2 linked regions of the Homo sapiens genome follow. The protein of the gene in region 2 interacts with the protein of the main gene of each other region in a pairwise test. Each region holds a gene or a part of one and is shown on either strand. Other genes may lie near its edges.

The links.
Region 1: the proteins of TMEM123 (region 2) and SPATA17 interact in binary tests that used the Homo sapiens proteins (3 or more experiments, as listed by UniProt).

The regions. Positions count from the first base shown.
Region 1 is NC_000001.11:217,774,181-217,782,071, reverse strand, and holds part of SPATA17 (spermatogenesis-associated protein 17), read right to left. Parts: intron 7,739-7,891; coding exon 7,535-7,738; intron 875-7,534; exon of another isoform or gene 789-874; intron 1-788.
Region 2 is NC_000011.10:102,442,038-102,449,928, reverse strand, and holds part of TMEM123 (porimin precursor), read left to right. Parts: intron 1-1,060; coding exon 1,061-1,117; intron 1,118-7,891. UniProt on the Homo sapiens protein: Implicated in oncotic cell death, characterized by cell swelling, organelle swelling, vacuolization and increased membrane permeability.

The sequences.
Region 1 (7,891 bases), on a different chromosome or scaffold from region 2:
AAGTTATTTTTAAAACACCATTTGTTCTTCGCTGAGTTAGAATATGCATGACATAATATCACTTATTTTCAAGCAATGTTCTCTCAAGTAAAATTGATTACATTAAAAAACTTTAAAATTAAACAGAAGTTTCCCCACTTACATCAAAAGATCTTCATGTTATAACTGATAAACTTGTTATAGGTTGCTTTGTTTTCTAATTTTACAAAGCACATTTTGTTCAGTATAATTAAAAAAAGGATTGTCTCCCTTTTTGAGTAAATACAAATATTAGGAAAAAATTCTAAGCATAGCTTTCCAACAGCCCTTCTATAAATAGAAATAGGAGAGCATTTGTTTTTTCATTAAGTTAAAATTTTTTGGTGAATTTCAAATGTCACACTTAATAGGCAGCCTCCTAAACACAGAAGAACCATAACTTTTATTTATTTTAAATGTTATTTATTTAAAATTCTAAACTCTATTGTTCAATTACTCTGATACCAATAGCAACCTTTTGATGACACAAATACTTAGCAGAGGAAAGTCCACAGCTGCACTGTGAAAAGTAACTTACAACATATCCTGCTTTCAAGTTAGTTGTTATTTATACTAGTTACTAAAATCCACTGGTTGTCTAATTAGTATCGTATTAGGCACAATACAAATCAAAGGCAGCTCAAGATTTTGCTGTGCCATTAATTGCATATTGGTTTTTTTCATCACTGTCGTATAGGAGAGAAGTAATATTAAATGGACAAAGATTTCTAATCATATTCCTTATTCTTAAAAATATCTTCTTTAAATAGGTTATCACTAACAAGACACAGCTGGAGTTACTGCAAGCACTGAGTGAAGACTGTGGGGCTAATAAAAAGAAATGATTCACGCCTCATTTATGTTCACTTATGCTTTACATTAATAGAAACCAATAATAGGAACCAGTTACCATAAAAGTCATGGACCGTAAATAACACAAATGGCAAATAAGTATCATCTAGTACTTTTCACAGCTGGACAGGAGGATTGCTATATTTGAAAGTAGTTAATGGATTTCTATTGGAATTTTACTTTTTAAAGATACAGTAACATGATTCCAAGTCCACTATTAAGAAATCAAATGGGACTTCTTTTTTTTTTCTTATTCTTATTCTTATACTTTGACAGAGTCTATGACTTAAAAAATTAATATTTGGTTTTATGACAAGGAGCAAAGTATTTCTCTATGCCGATGTTCATCATTTGTAAAATGGAATAACTACATCACAGAATTTCTCTTAAGATGTGTACGATAATGTGACACCCTTACCATGTACCTAGAACACAGTAAACACTCAAAATGGTTCCCACTACATTGTTATTGTTATTACCATCATAATTATTAGTTTCAAGAAGAGTTTTTAAAAGGTTTTGAGCAATAGTAGCATCAAAGAAATACACAATGGCCCAAGGCTATGACTTTGAAGAGACCAGCATTCACATGGAGCAATGGTCTTCTTGGTGGCCATGTTATGCCTTCTAACCTTTGTTGATAAGCAAACATAACACATATCTACTTGTAGGCTTACTCTACTGTTGTTCTGGAACTTATTAGTTCCAATGAGACTACAAAATGAAAGAGAAGAAGCCCTGCTTAGGATTAGAATGAAAGTAAACTCAGTCTTCCTTTTGGGTTCACTCCCACCTTCATGATCCCTGACTTTTGTGCAGTCATGTCCATGCCCCTATGTCTTTGCAATGCCTGGTACATACATTTATACCTCAGACAATTAGCATCTTGTCTTTGAGCTCAATAGTCTTCCAGCTCCTTGGTTAGTGAACTTGACACCAGCTATCAAGTTTCTCTTACGTCAAATTTTTGTTGATTTATATTTCTTTTGAAAAACTGCCTTTTTTGGATATCAGGCAATCATCTATCCCAGTCATGCCTAGAGTGACATGGGAACCCAGGTTTTGTAAATATATATCTATATTTATATATCTATATATCTATGTGTATCTTTCACCTATCAAACTTTAGATCTGCTGATTGTACTTATTTCCAATTAATCCCTAGAATACCTAGATCATCCAAGACTTAACTTGACACTACAGGTATTTCTGGACTCTTAGCTATGGTTTTTTAATGTTTAGTTTACATTGCCTCCACCTAAGCCCTGGTTAGGAGAGTCAAATATATTTATGTTCTGCTGTATTTTCCATAATTCATGTTATTTATAGTCATTTTATATGTTTAAGCCATTATTAAAACCATAAAATTGTCCTAGATGTTTAAAAAATTCACCTGGCAAGTAAAGCTACTCTGATTAGAGTACAAATATTATCATTTGGGCATAATCTTAAATGTCACCAATGAGGTATATACTTTTTTATTATTGGTAACACACAGGAATATGGCTCAGAAAAAACAAACAAACAAAACAAAATGTAAAACAATCCCATTTTGGGAAAAAAAAAGGAAGAAGGGAAAGAGAAAAGAAAAAAGAAGAATGGTGAAGAAAAGAGGCAAAGGAAGTAAAGAGAGGAGAAGGTGTTAAGAAAAGATGACAGAAGGAAGACTGAGAAGGAAGGAAACAAGAGAATGAAGAATAGGGCAGTGGGGATGACATGGCCAGAGGAAAAGGAGGAGGAGTTTAAAATAGGGAAGGAAGGAGACAGAAGAAGAAGGAAAGAAAAAACACTGAAAGAGAAAATAAATAATAGAAGAGAAGAGAATAAAAAAGAGAGAACGAAGAAAAGAGAATAGATTAGTAGGGATCATTATTTTGTAGCATGCTAGATAAATGTAATTCAGGAGTATATGTGTGTATATATATGTAAGTATACATATATACATATATAAATACATATTTTTTAATTCTGCCATGTGTTTATATATTCTCTATATAAACATAAATATTTCTCTCTCTCCATACACAGACACACACACACACACACACACACACACAAGTTGTTTTACAAATGTGTGTATTTTTCTATTTTTATACTTATACCATATATATATATATCTTCCATATGGGCTGATATACCATTTATACATATATATTTTCCATATACCTATACATCATCCATACATTATTTCTATATATGTACCTTCTGCCTATGCATTCCATACATACTAAATACACTTATGTATATAGGTATATGTGTACATAGAATGGTATGGAGGAAGAAAGCCATGTAGGGAATGAAGATGGTTGTACAGAGGTTGTATTGAGAAACAGAGATGAAGAATGAACACTGACAAGTGTAGAAGAAGACACATCATTAAAAGTATATTAAAAGCAGGGCAATAAAGCAAATGTAATAACATTATAAAACACCTATACCATAATATTACATGTTTAATGGTTAATGTTGTGAATATTGTATAGTGTGGTAGTTTGGTTCAGATGACCTTCATGGTGTTTCCAGCTCAGAAATATTTACATGCCCTTATTTTATTCATGCCATGTAATTTTCACATTTCCTAAAAAGTTGTATGCAAAATTACTCTATGAATTCCATGTAGTACCAATAGCTATACAAATGAATATAGCATGCAACGTGGTTTATTATTATTATTATTTTTTGGGATGGAGTCTTGCTCTCTCACCCAGGCTGGAGTGCAATGGTGTGATCTCGGCTCACTGCAACCTCCACCTCCCAGGTTCAAGCGATTCTCCTGCCTCAGCCTCCCAAATAGCTGGGATTACAGGCATGTGCCACCATGCCCGGCTAATTTTTGTATTTTTAGTAGAGGCAGGGTTTCACCATGTTGGCCAGTCTGGTCTCGAACTCCTGACCTCGTAGGTGATCCACCCACTCCAGCCTGTAATCCACCCAAAGTGCTGGGATTACAGGTGTGAGCCACCGCGCCCACCAGCAGTGTGGATTATTAAAAATTTAAATATGCAATGTTACATCTACCTTAACTGCTTTTGAGTAGTTAATACATTTAACACACTGAACACTTAATATACATGCAGTGGAAATGCTGGAGTTATTATTTTCTTGATAGAATAATTAATAAATTTAATTGCTTGTTGATGCAAAGTTATATGTTATATATGCAATGTGATGATTACTTACACTAATAGAAAAATAGTAATGTACATAATTCAAAATAGCAAAAATTCAATTATTCATAATATAAAATTCATTTTATATTTACATTTAAAACTATTTTAAATGCTTTCACTAGAATATTGATATAACTCTTATTTAAAAAGGAATAATGAAACCATACTCTGAAGACATATCCCCCTAAAAAACTGAAAATTTTCCTACTATCTCTCTTTTGTCCCCTTGCTCACTCCACTATGCTTGTCACTCCAGTTTAGTAAAGGAACGAATGATCAGATTCAGATAAATGGATTAGTTTACTAGGTAATTGAGAATGCTGATACATGGGCCTGGCGTGATGGCTTATTCCTGTAATCCCAGCACTTTAGGAGGCCGAGACAGGCAGATCACCTGAGGTCAGGAGTTGGAGACCGGCCTGGCCAACATGGTGAAACCCTATATCTACTAAAAATACAAAACTTAGCAGGGCATGGTGGCAGGTGCCTGTAATACCAGCTACTTGGGAGGCTGAGGCAGGAGAATCGCTTGAACCAGGGAGGCAGAAGTGGTAGTGTGCTGAGATCCCTCCACTGCACTCCAGCATGGGCAACACAGCGAGACACCATCTCAAAAAAAGAATACGGATATAAATAGAATATCACAGGAACTGAATCAGAGATGAAGAAAAGGAGAAAGCGGTCCAAGGGGGAAACTGACTATAGATTTTCAATTATATTTTATAGCTCTTTCTCTAAGACAGTATAAACCATCAGTTAATAGTATTAATTATCAGTTAGTAGTTTTGAGAGAGTAAAAAAAAAGATACAAATAATGGGAATTAAGGACGTAATTATAGAGAATGGAAACACAACATATATCACAAATAATTACAGTAAAGTGGGAGATTTTTAATGAAATAGAATGCAGGGCTGTCTTATTGCAAGGATGATTCAATGGTTGAGGGTATAAAAGGCAGGCTCTAGGATGACTCCCAAGGGCCCCTGCCTCCTGGTATCCACACCGTCGGGTAGTCTTTTGCCCTTGAATATAAAATAGACTTACTCATTTCGAACATGGCAGAAGTGATGGGATGTCACTTCTAGCATTAGTTTTATAAGCCTGTGGCTTCTGTTTTGAAAGCTGTCTCTCTCTCTCCCTAGGATCACTCACCCAGAGGGAAATGAGTTACCATGTTGTGAGGCAGCTCTGTGAAGATGCCAATGTGAGGAGGGGCTGAGGCATGACAACACCCAACCATGTGAGTGAGGGAACCAACCAAGAGGATCTCACTGCCCTCCTATCCCCACCCTCCGTCTGAGCCTTCATATGAGATCACGGTCATGGTTGACATCTTTTTTTTTTTTTTTTTTTTAATAGAGACAGGCTCTCGCTATGTTGCCCAGGCTGGTTGTGAACTCCTGGGCTCAAGTGATCCTCCCACCTCACCCTCCCAAAGTGCTGGGATTATAGGCATGAGCCACTGTGCCTCACCTGGCTGACATCTGGACTACAACATCATGAGAGAACTTGAGTAAGAGGAACTCACCAAAGGCTGTACCTAGAATGGCAAACCCATAGAAACTGTGAAGTAACAAATGTATGTTGGTTTAACCCATTAGATTTTGGAGTAATTTATTATACAGCAATATAGATACACAAGGGCACGCCTATTCAGGGAGTTAATGGTCAGGAGTTCTGGGAGTTTAATTGTGTGAGCCAAATCTAACACAAGGTAGTTGATACTACATGGTGGCAGCTTAATTATTGATTGGGATGATAGACCTGTGGCTCTCCGGGACTTTTAGGATGGTGACAATCATCATTCACCCCACCCCACTCTACCCTTTAGCCTCAGGAAGTCATTTGCCAAACCTGTTGTACTACAATCTAGTTATAGGGAAGATTTCCCATCTCTACTATGAGTATTGCTTTGTTTTGAGCTGTCTCAAATTCTCAAATTTACATTTGTAAAATTACTCAAACCCAAGTTTTGTTTAAAATGGCATATAAAGACATATAGCATCAAATGAGAGGTTAAATTCAATAAAATTGATAATACATGTATTCCCAGCAACAACAGGTTATAACAAGTAGTGGTATAACAATATTTTTACATAAAAAATCTAGATTCTAGGAAATAATCCATGTTTTAACTTCTTATTCAATATAACAAGATTTAATGCCAAAGAAGTGTTTGTTCACTTCTTTGGTATATATTTGTAAATTACTTTATGTTTATTATTTAAAATTAGAGTTGCAAAAAATAATTTTCCTCTGGTCAAAAAAATGGAACAAAACAATAATCTATATATATATAGATAGATAGATAGATTATAGACTCTCTCTATATATATATATATAGATCGGTCGCCAGGCTGGAGGGCAGTGGCACGATCTCGGCTCACTGCAACCTCCGCCTCCCGAGTTCAAGTGATTCTCCTGCCTCAGCCTCCCGAGTAGCTGGGACCACAGGGTGCACCACCATGTCCAGCTAATTTTTGTATTTTTAGTAGAGATGGGGTTTCACCATGTTGTCCAGGATGGTCTTGATCTCTTGACCTTGTGATCTGTCCGCCTTGGCCTCCCAAAGTGCTGGAATTACAGGCGTGAACCACTGTGCCCAGCCCTGTATTTTTAAAAAGCAAGACACTGTAACAGAGTAGAGAAGGAGCCCATAGAATGGGAGAAAATATTTGCAAACCATGTATCTGATAAGGCATGAATACCCAGAATATATAGAGAACTCCTAAAACTCAACATCAAAAAACAGCCCAATTCAAAAATGGGCAAAGGACTTAGAATAGACATTTCTTCAAAGAAGACACACAAATGGCCAATAGGCACATAAAAAGATTCTCAACATCGCTAACAATTAGAAAAATGCAAATCAAAACTGCAACAAGAATGTGGAGAAATTGGAACCCTTGTGCCCTGTTGATGGGAATGGAAAATGTGTATAGATGCTATGAGAAACAGTATGGCAGTTTCTCAAATAATTAAAAATATAATTACCATATAATCTGGCAATTCCACTTCTGAGTATATTCTTAAAAGAAATGAAAACAGTCTCAAGAAGATCTTTTACACCCATGTTCACAGCAGCATTATTCACAATACATAAAGTGTGGTCGCAACTCAAATGCCAAATGCAGATAAATGGATAAACAAAATGTGGTATGTACATAAAATAGAATATTATTCAGCCTTAAGAAAGAAGGAAATTCGGACATATTCTGCAACATAGATGAACTTTAAGAACATCGTGCTAAGTGAAACAAGTCATGTCAGGGGATGGGGCAAAGGGAAATGGAGAGTTGTTTAGTGGGTATAGTTTTAATTCTCCAAGATGAAAAGAGTTCTAGCGACAGCTGATTGCACAAAAATATGAATGTACTTAATCCCACTAAACTATATAATTAAAAATGGTTAAATTAAGATAGTGTTATATAAAAAGTGCAAAAAATAGCAAGAATAAAATTAATGACAGAATTCTTATACAGCAAACTAGTACCTGACATTGCTTTCTATTAATAGGTGGTAGAATTTCAGACCGAGGAAAAGAACGGGCGCTTGTACAAGCTAGCCAATCAGTAAGGCTGGTGGAGTCCTTCTGCTTAACTTTAGGTCTTCGGTGTGTTAAAGGCTTTGCCTTCTGTAATTGCAGCTCCCATGGATCAGGCTCTTTTCTGAAGGGTGAATTGTATATTCCTGGAATCTAAAGAAGAAGAAAGCAATTTTGATTTTTTCTTTAATTTTCAGATGAAATAAAGGAAAGAGTTGTACCATGAAATTTTTTCTTATGTTTAAAGAATATTTTAAACTACAACTGTGGTTCTTAACCAGAGGTGGACTTCAGATTTACCTAAAG
Region 2 (7,891 bases):
AGGAATCAAACTATCTGGTCCAATTCCAGTCTCTGCCACTTTGTATCTGGGCGGCCTTCTCTGGGCCTCAGTTCTTGTCTGCAAAACAATACTCCTAAGAATTGTTGAGAGGGTTAGATGAGCTAATGCACATAACCCTGGCTTGTGGTAAGCACCTAATAATGTTGGCAATTGTTTGCTATCTGCTGCTAAATACATCTACGTAGTCTGTTGACCTTGATCTTTTTCAAGTTAATCTTACACTGTATCCTTTTGTGATAAATAGATGATAGTCCCATCAAGAAGAAGAAATTCTCACAAAGAAGAAATTTGCCCAAGAAGTAAAGATAAATCCTTCAAAGTTACTGCTTTTCTTTGTACTTGGAGGATTTTTTTTTAAGTGGGGGAGAGTTCATCTTTGTGAAAAGGACACAATAATACACTTGCTCTCTCCCTATGTGTTATACATATTTAATCTTCATTAGACAAAGACTCAAAACGAATAAAGCACTCTGAAAAGTTGCTTAATTGGGACATAGAAATCTCTTACATTTTTTCCAAATCTAAAGGTGTACTAATTTAAAAATTAAAACCCTACTGAGAAGGTGCAGTTAAATAAGAAAATCCTATTTTATCCCTCCATTGTATGAAATTAGGGGTGTTGGTTGGGTGGTGCAAGACCTAGAGATGCCTGTGAGTAGAATCGGCCTCTCCTGAAATGGTCCACTCCACTCAGAAGAGCAGAGTCCTCAGTGGCAGAAATTGGCCCATCTGTCCCCAATTGTGTGGGTAAATGAATTTTGGCAAAGCTGTTGCATTCGGTGGCTGGTATATAGTAAGTACTATGTAAGTGTTTGTTATGTAAGCTAGATGTTTATCTTGAAAAACCTGGTAATACAGTCCCTTTTACTGACAGCTTCAAGATATGTTTCATAACAACAGGGGCCAAAGTAGAACTTCCTGTGGAATAATCTACCCTCCTGACACCACTACCCCTACTCCCGCTAGGCAGAAAACCACATACTGCCAGTATTCTTAGTTAAATGTTCTTTCATAACAGGATATTTCTTTATTTTTACAGCATCTGCAAACATAGAGAATTCTGGGCTTCCACACAACTCCAGTGCTAACTCAACAGGTGAGTTTTAAAAGATTAAAAAAACAAATTTTCATTTGTCTAGGGTACATGAAGTAATAACAGCCAGGGAAGTAGGCATAAGCTGGTTCACTGACCTGTTTTAACCCTGAGTTCTTCACCCATGAATCCCAATAACCTGCCCTAGTGCCCTATAGTAGACATCAGTAAGTGATAGTTCACTGGATTAATCTTCCTCAGTCTTGTAAAGATGTCAATAAATTCTAAAACAAAAAGTGTATCGGAATTTCATGTTATGAATTTTTGAAGCACATTTTTAGATGTGAGGGTTTTGTAGTTTGCCTGTAGATATGAAATGTCAGCACAGAAGTCTGCAGGTCCTATTGATGAAACAAGTCACTGTAAACTAGTCAGCCATGGCAGCCTTAATATACCTCTGCTGACTCTAAGGAGACCCTACTTACATTTCACCCATTAGGCAGACTCAACCCAAACACTTGGTGAGGCCCTTACCCTGTGATTTTAGTTTGGGACAAAGCCTTGGGCCTCTGAGTTCACTAACATGGAAAGATGCAAGAACCAGGCTGATGTCATCAATATCAGTAGTAAATCATCAAGGTACGTTTCTTGTAAACAATTTTTAAGTTATCTTCTCACTGCCCTTAATCTTCACAGTTGACTGAGTTGGAAACTAGAAAAAGGTACACCAATCCTATCACTAACTTGTTTTGTTTACTTTTAGTCAGGGAATATTTATGGACTCTAATGAGCTAGCACATCCTAGGTTCTAAGAATACAAAATGGACCAAGCCTTAACTTCTAGGAGTTTTTGTTCTTTTGTTTTTTATTTTGTGGCAAAATATACATGACATAAAATACATAAGTAACCATTTTTTTAAAGTGTAAAGGTCAGTGGCAGTAAGTACCTTCATGCTGCTTTGCAACTTGCTGGAGTTTTTATTCCTGTGGGGCATCCCAGTGTTTCACTTAGTTTATGTTCTTGGTTTACTGCTGTTCTTTGTTTCATTATCTCTGCCTTTTTGACTGGTGTCTGGTGGTACGTAGTCAGGACATACTTTAATTCTAGTTTTAGTAATTCTACAGAAAACGTTTTCATTGAGAGGAAAAAAAGTCTAGAGGGATTACTCCAAAATGTAATAGTGGTTATCATTGGGTAGTTGTGAGAGGGTCTTAGTTAAAAAATATTTTATTACACTATTAGATAGCTTTTCCTTTTGTCCTTTATTGAATCTAATTCTGCACTACTGAACTTTTAACCTTGGGTAGACAAAGGAGGTAGAAGAAACATAAAGACAGTAATATTAGCAATAGACACCATTTTTGAATGCCTACAACTTATAAGATACTCCTCATACATTTACTAATTTAACAGTGGTGAGGTAGGTGTCATTTCTGGTTTACACATGGGGAAATTGAAACTCAAGAGTGGTTAGGAAATGCCCAAGATCACATGACACTAAGTGTCACATTCAGGATTTGAAACCCAGTTGTATTCTAAAACCTATGTCTCTTTATCACACTGTCTGAAGTGTGGTGTGGCCTTACTTTTAAAACATGCTTTTCACTGTGAATGATTATTAAAAATCAACTGAATACTTTGAGGGCAGCTCCAGAGTCAGTGGGATGATTTCAAATGCCCCTTCTAGCACAGGGAAATTTTTTGAGAAAGAAGAAAAGCATTGCCTCAAATTTTTCTAGAAGGAGAACAGATAATACAACTATTAAAAATGTTTTTGCACAATGTGTTTTACGCCTCATAACTGTCGCATTCCTCTTTGTATCTTGAAAACACTTTTGAAACATGTTAAGTTTGTGTATTTTTATAGGATGGATGCTTAACTGTTTTTCTTTTTAGTTACATAGACCATTGTTGAAGCTTTGTTTCTTTGAACATACTGTTTACCAATTTATTTGGTGCTATTTATTTAGTGCAGTTTCTGTGGCGCCATATTTCCTCTCACTAGGAAAATAGCATCTTTGGCAAATTCCATTATGATGTGTATTCCAGGAATGTACTGTTGGAAAAAGCGGAGACTGCCTGCAGTACTCCTTAGAATGTTGGGTGTCTATCACTTTTATAGGACTCACCACGTTGGAATTTCAGAGAATCTTTTTTTCTCTTGTTTTGGTCTCCAAGTTCCTTGAGAGTGAAATCTATGATTTATTCATCCTAACATCTCACTCTATGCCTGGTGCATAGTAGGTATGCAGGATATGTATGTTTTTGGTTGGTTGAACTCAATTGTGGAGCAACATAGATATTTTGTAATTGCTGACTTGCCTTATCAAAACACTAATATATACATTTTGCAGATGTGTACTGGTTTATGCTCCAATCCTATACATTATTACAGCTGTTTTTCTGTTTATACAGTAATATAGGTACTTGAAGTCAATAGGAATAAAGGTTGCTTTCCAATGTACCACTGAGTTACATGTAACAGTTCTATTTTTTTATGTCCTCTAATCATTATTTGAAGACAGCTGTACTTTTGACATTCTTGTCTGCAGGGACTTGTTTGACACACTTTCAGCTTATATAGAAAATAATTTCCCCTTATTTCATTTGCAGTCAGAGTATTTAGATTCTGTGGATGGATGAATTTACACTTTATAGTGCAAGGAAGACACATGCCCAGATTATTTTTCATAATGGGTTTGAGCAAGGATGTAAGGAAATGTGGCATGGTCTAGATTGGAGTGCACATCTCATCAGTAACTAGAACAGCAGCTCAATATCATTCAGGATACAGCCGTCTCCTTGATCACATAGCATTGATACTTCCCAACAGAGGGATCTGAGAGGATTGGGTTACCATCATCCAATCTGAAGCTCTTTTCTTGGACATAACTTGCACCAACTCCTTTCCAAAGCCGTTTATCTCTTAATCATGTATGTTCCATTTATTACGATTGCCATTAGTTTGGTTATTCATCCTTGGCCTAGTCATTTGGGCCACTCTAGTGAGGTTAGTTTTGTCCATATTCATGGCAGGGATGGGTAGTTGTGAGAGGGTCTTATTTTAAAAATGTTTTATTACACTATTAGGTACCTTTTCCTTTTATTCTTTATTGGATCTAATTCTGCACTACTGAACTTTTAACCACCATTTTGAGCACTTGGACCTGGCTTGCATTTAGATTTCTACAGAAGAAGGCAGTGGAAATTTGGGAACAGCTTATTCTGTATTCCAATTTTTACCCCCGATTGCAACAATGAAAGTCTTACTGAAGTGGAAAGAATTTATCAGGTATATAATCCTGTATGTCACACTACCTTCTTCTGTTTACTTTAGATAAAATGTTTTATGTGTGAAAAGAATATTAGATGGAAACTTTCTGTGAGTTTGTAAGTCAGTCAAAGACAGGAACCAATTGGCCTGACAGGTTGCTTTAGTTGCAAATGGTGATACAGATGAATGATTGATTGACTGATTGATTGATTCACTGATAGATGCAAATGTTGATAGATACAAACAGTGATAGATACACAGAGAGACATAGAGATATCAATACTAGTTTTTAACTAGAGATTGGATGTAGAAAAGAATTTTTCTAACTAAAGAATTCATAGTACACTTAACTGCTTCAACTCCTCAGAAAGTTAATTGTGTTCAACTCATGTTTTTGAGATTGCGTCTGAAAATTGATGGTAATTTTTTTTTATACTTCGAGTTCTAGGGTACATGTGCACAACGTGCAGATTTGTTACGTATGTATACATGTGCCATGTTGGTGTGCTACACCCATTAACGCATCATTTACATTAGGTATTATCTCCTCATGCTATCCCTCCCCCCTTCCCCCCACCCCACGACAGGCCCTGGTGTGTGATGTTCCCTGCCCTGTGTCCAAGTGTTCTCTTTGTTCAGTTCTCACCTATGAGTGAGAACATGCGGTGTTTGGTTTTCTGTCCTTCGGATAGTTTGCTGAGAATGATGGTTTCCAGCTTCATCCACGTCCCTACAAAGGACATGAACTCATCCTTTTTTATGGCTGCATAGTATTCCATGGTGTATATGTGCCACATTTTCTTAATCCAGTCTATCATTGATGGACATTTGGGTTGGTTCCAAGTCTTTGCTATTGTGAATAGTGCTGCAATAAACATGTGTGTGCATGTATCTTTTATTTATTTATTATTATTATACTTTAAGTTCTATGGTACATGTGCACAATGTGCAGGTTTGTTACATATGTATACATATGCCATGTTGGTGTGCTGCACCCGTCAACTCGTCATTTACATTAGATGTGTCTCCTAATGCTGTCCCACCCCACCCCCACCCACGACAGGCCCTGGTGTGTGATGTTCCCCACCCTGTGTTCAAGTGTTCTCATTGTTCAGTTCCCACCTATGAGTGAGAACATACGGTATTTGGTTTCTTCCTTGCCGTAGTTTGCTGAGAATGATGGTTTCCAGCTTCATCCATGTCCCTGCAAAGGACATGAACTCATCCTTTTTTATGGCTGCATAGTATTCCATGATGTGTCTGTGCCATTGTCTTAATCCACTCTATCATTGATGGACATTTGGGTTGCTTCCAAGTCTTTGCTATTGTGAATAGTGCCACAATAAACACACGTGTGCATGTGTCTTTATAGTAGTGTGATTTATAATCCTTTGGGTATATGCCCAGTAATGGGATGGCCGGGTCAAATGGTGTTTCTAGTTCTGGATCCTTGAGGAATCGCCACACTGTCTTCCACAATGGTTGAACTACTTTACCCTCCCACCAACAGCGTAAAAGTGTTCCTATGTCTCCACATCCTCTCCAGCATCTGTTGTTTCCTGACTTTTTAAATGATTGCCATTGTAACTGCTGTGAGATGGTATCTCGTTGTGGTTTTGATTTGCATTTCTCTGATGACCAGTGATGATGAGCATTTTTTCATGTGTCTGTTGGCTACCTAAATGTCTTTTGAGAAGTGTCTGTTCATATCCTTTGCCCACTTTTTCATGGGGTTGTTTGATTTTTTTCTTGTAAATTTGTTTAAGTTCTTTGTAGGTTCTGGATATTAGCCCTTTGTCAGATGGGTAGATTGTAAAAAATTTTCTCCCATTCTGTAGGTTGCTTGTTCACTCTGATGGTAGTTTCTTTTGCCATGCAAAAGCTCTTCAGTTTAATTAGATCCCATTCGTCTATTTTGGCTTTTGTTGGCATTGCTTTTGGTGTTTTAGTCATGAAGTCCTCGCCCATGCCTGTGTCCTGAATGGTATTGCTTAGGTTTTCTTCTAGGGTTTTTATGGTTTTAGGTCTAACATTTAAGTCTTTAATCCATCTCGAATGAAATTTTGTATAATGTATAAGGAAGGGATCCGGTTTCAGCTTTCTACATATGGCTAGCCAGTTTTCCCAGCACCATTTATTAAATAGGGAATCCTTTCCTCATTTCTTGTTTTTGTCAGGTTTGTCAAAGATCAGATGGTTGTAGAAGTGTGGTATTATTTCTGAGGGCTCTGTTCTGTTCCATTGGTCTATATCTCTGTTTGGTACCAGTACAATGCTGTTTTGGTTACTGTAGCCTTGTAGTGTAGTTTGAAATCACGTAGCATGATGCCTCCAGCTTTATTGTTTTGGCTTAGGATTGTCTTGGCAATGTGGGCTATTTTTTTGTTCCATATGAACTTGAAAGTAGTTTTTTCCAATTCTGTGAAGAAAGTCATTGGTAGCTTGATGGGGATGGCATTGAATCTATGAATTACCTTGAGCAGTATGGCCATTTTCACGATATTGATTCTTCCTGTCCATGAGCATGGAATGTTCTTCCATTTGTTTGTGTCCTCTTTTATTTCGTTGAGCAGTGGTTTGTAGTTCTCCTTGAACAGTTCCTTCACATGCCTTGTAAGTTGGATTCCTAGGTATTTTATTCTCTTTGAAACAATTGAGAATGGGAGTTCACTCATGATTTGGCTCTCTGTTTGTCTTTTATTGGTGTATAGGAATGCTTGTGATTTTTGCACATTGATTTTGTATCCTGAGACTTTGCTGAAGTTGCTTATCAGCTTAAGGAGATTTGGGGCTGAGATGATGGGGTTTTCTAAATATACAATCATGTCATCTGCAAACAGGGACAATTTGACTTCCTCTTTTCCTAATTGAATACCCTTTATTTCCTTCTCCTGCCTGATTGCCCTGGCCAGAACTTCCAACAGTGTGTTGAATGGGAGTAGTGAGAGAGGGCATCCCTGTCTTGTGCCAGTTTTCAGAGGGAATGCTTCCAGTTTTTGCCCATTCAGTATGATATTGGCTGTGGGTTTGTCATAAATAGCTCTTATTATTTTGAGATACGTTCCATCAATACCCTGTTTAATGAGAGTTTTTAGCATGAAGGTTGTTGAATTTTGTTGAAGGCCTTTTCTGCATCTATTCAGATTATCATGTGGTTTTTGTCGTTGGTTCTGTTTATATGCTGGATTACGTTTATTGATTTGCATGTGTTGAACCAGTCTTGCATCCCAGGGATGAAGCCAACTTGATTGTGGTGGATAAGCTTTTTGATGTGCTGCTGGATTCGGTTTGCCAGTATTTTACTGAGGATTTTTGCATCGATATTCATCAGGGATATTGGTCTAAAATTCTTTTGTTGTGTCTCTGCCAGGCTTTGGTATCAGGATGATGCTGGCCTCATAAAATGAGTTAGGGAGGATTCCCTCTTTTTCTGTTGATTGGAATAGTTTCAGAAGGAGTGCTACCAGCTCCTCTTTGTACCTCTGGTAGAATTCGGCTATGAATCCGTCTAGTCCTGGACTTTTTTTGGTTGGTAGGCTATTAATTATTGCCTCAATTTCAG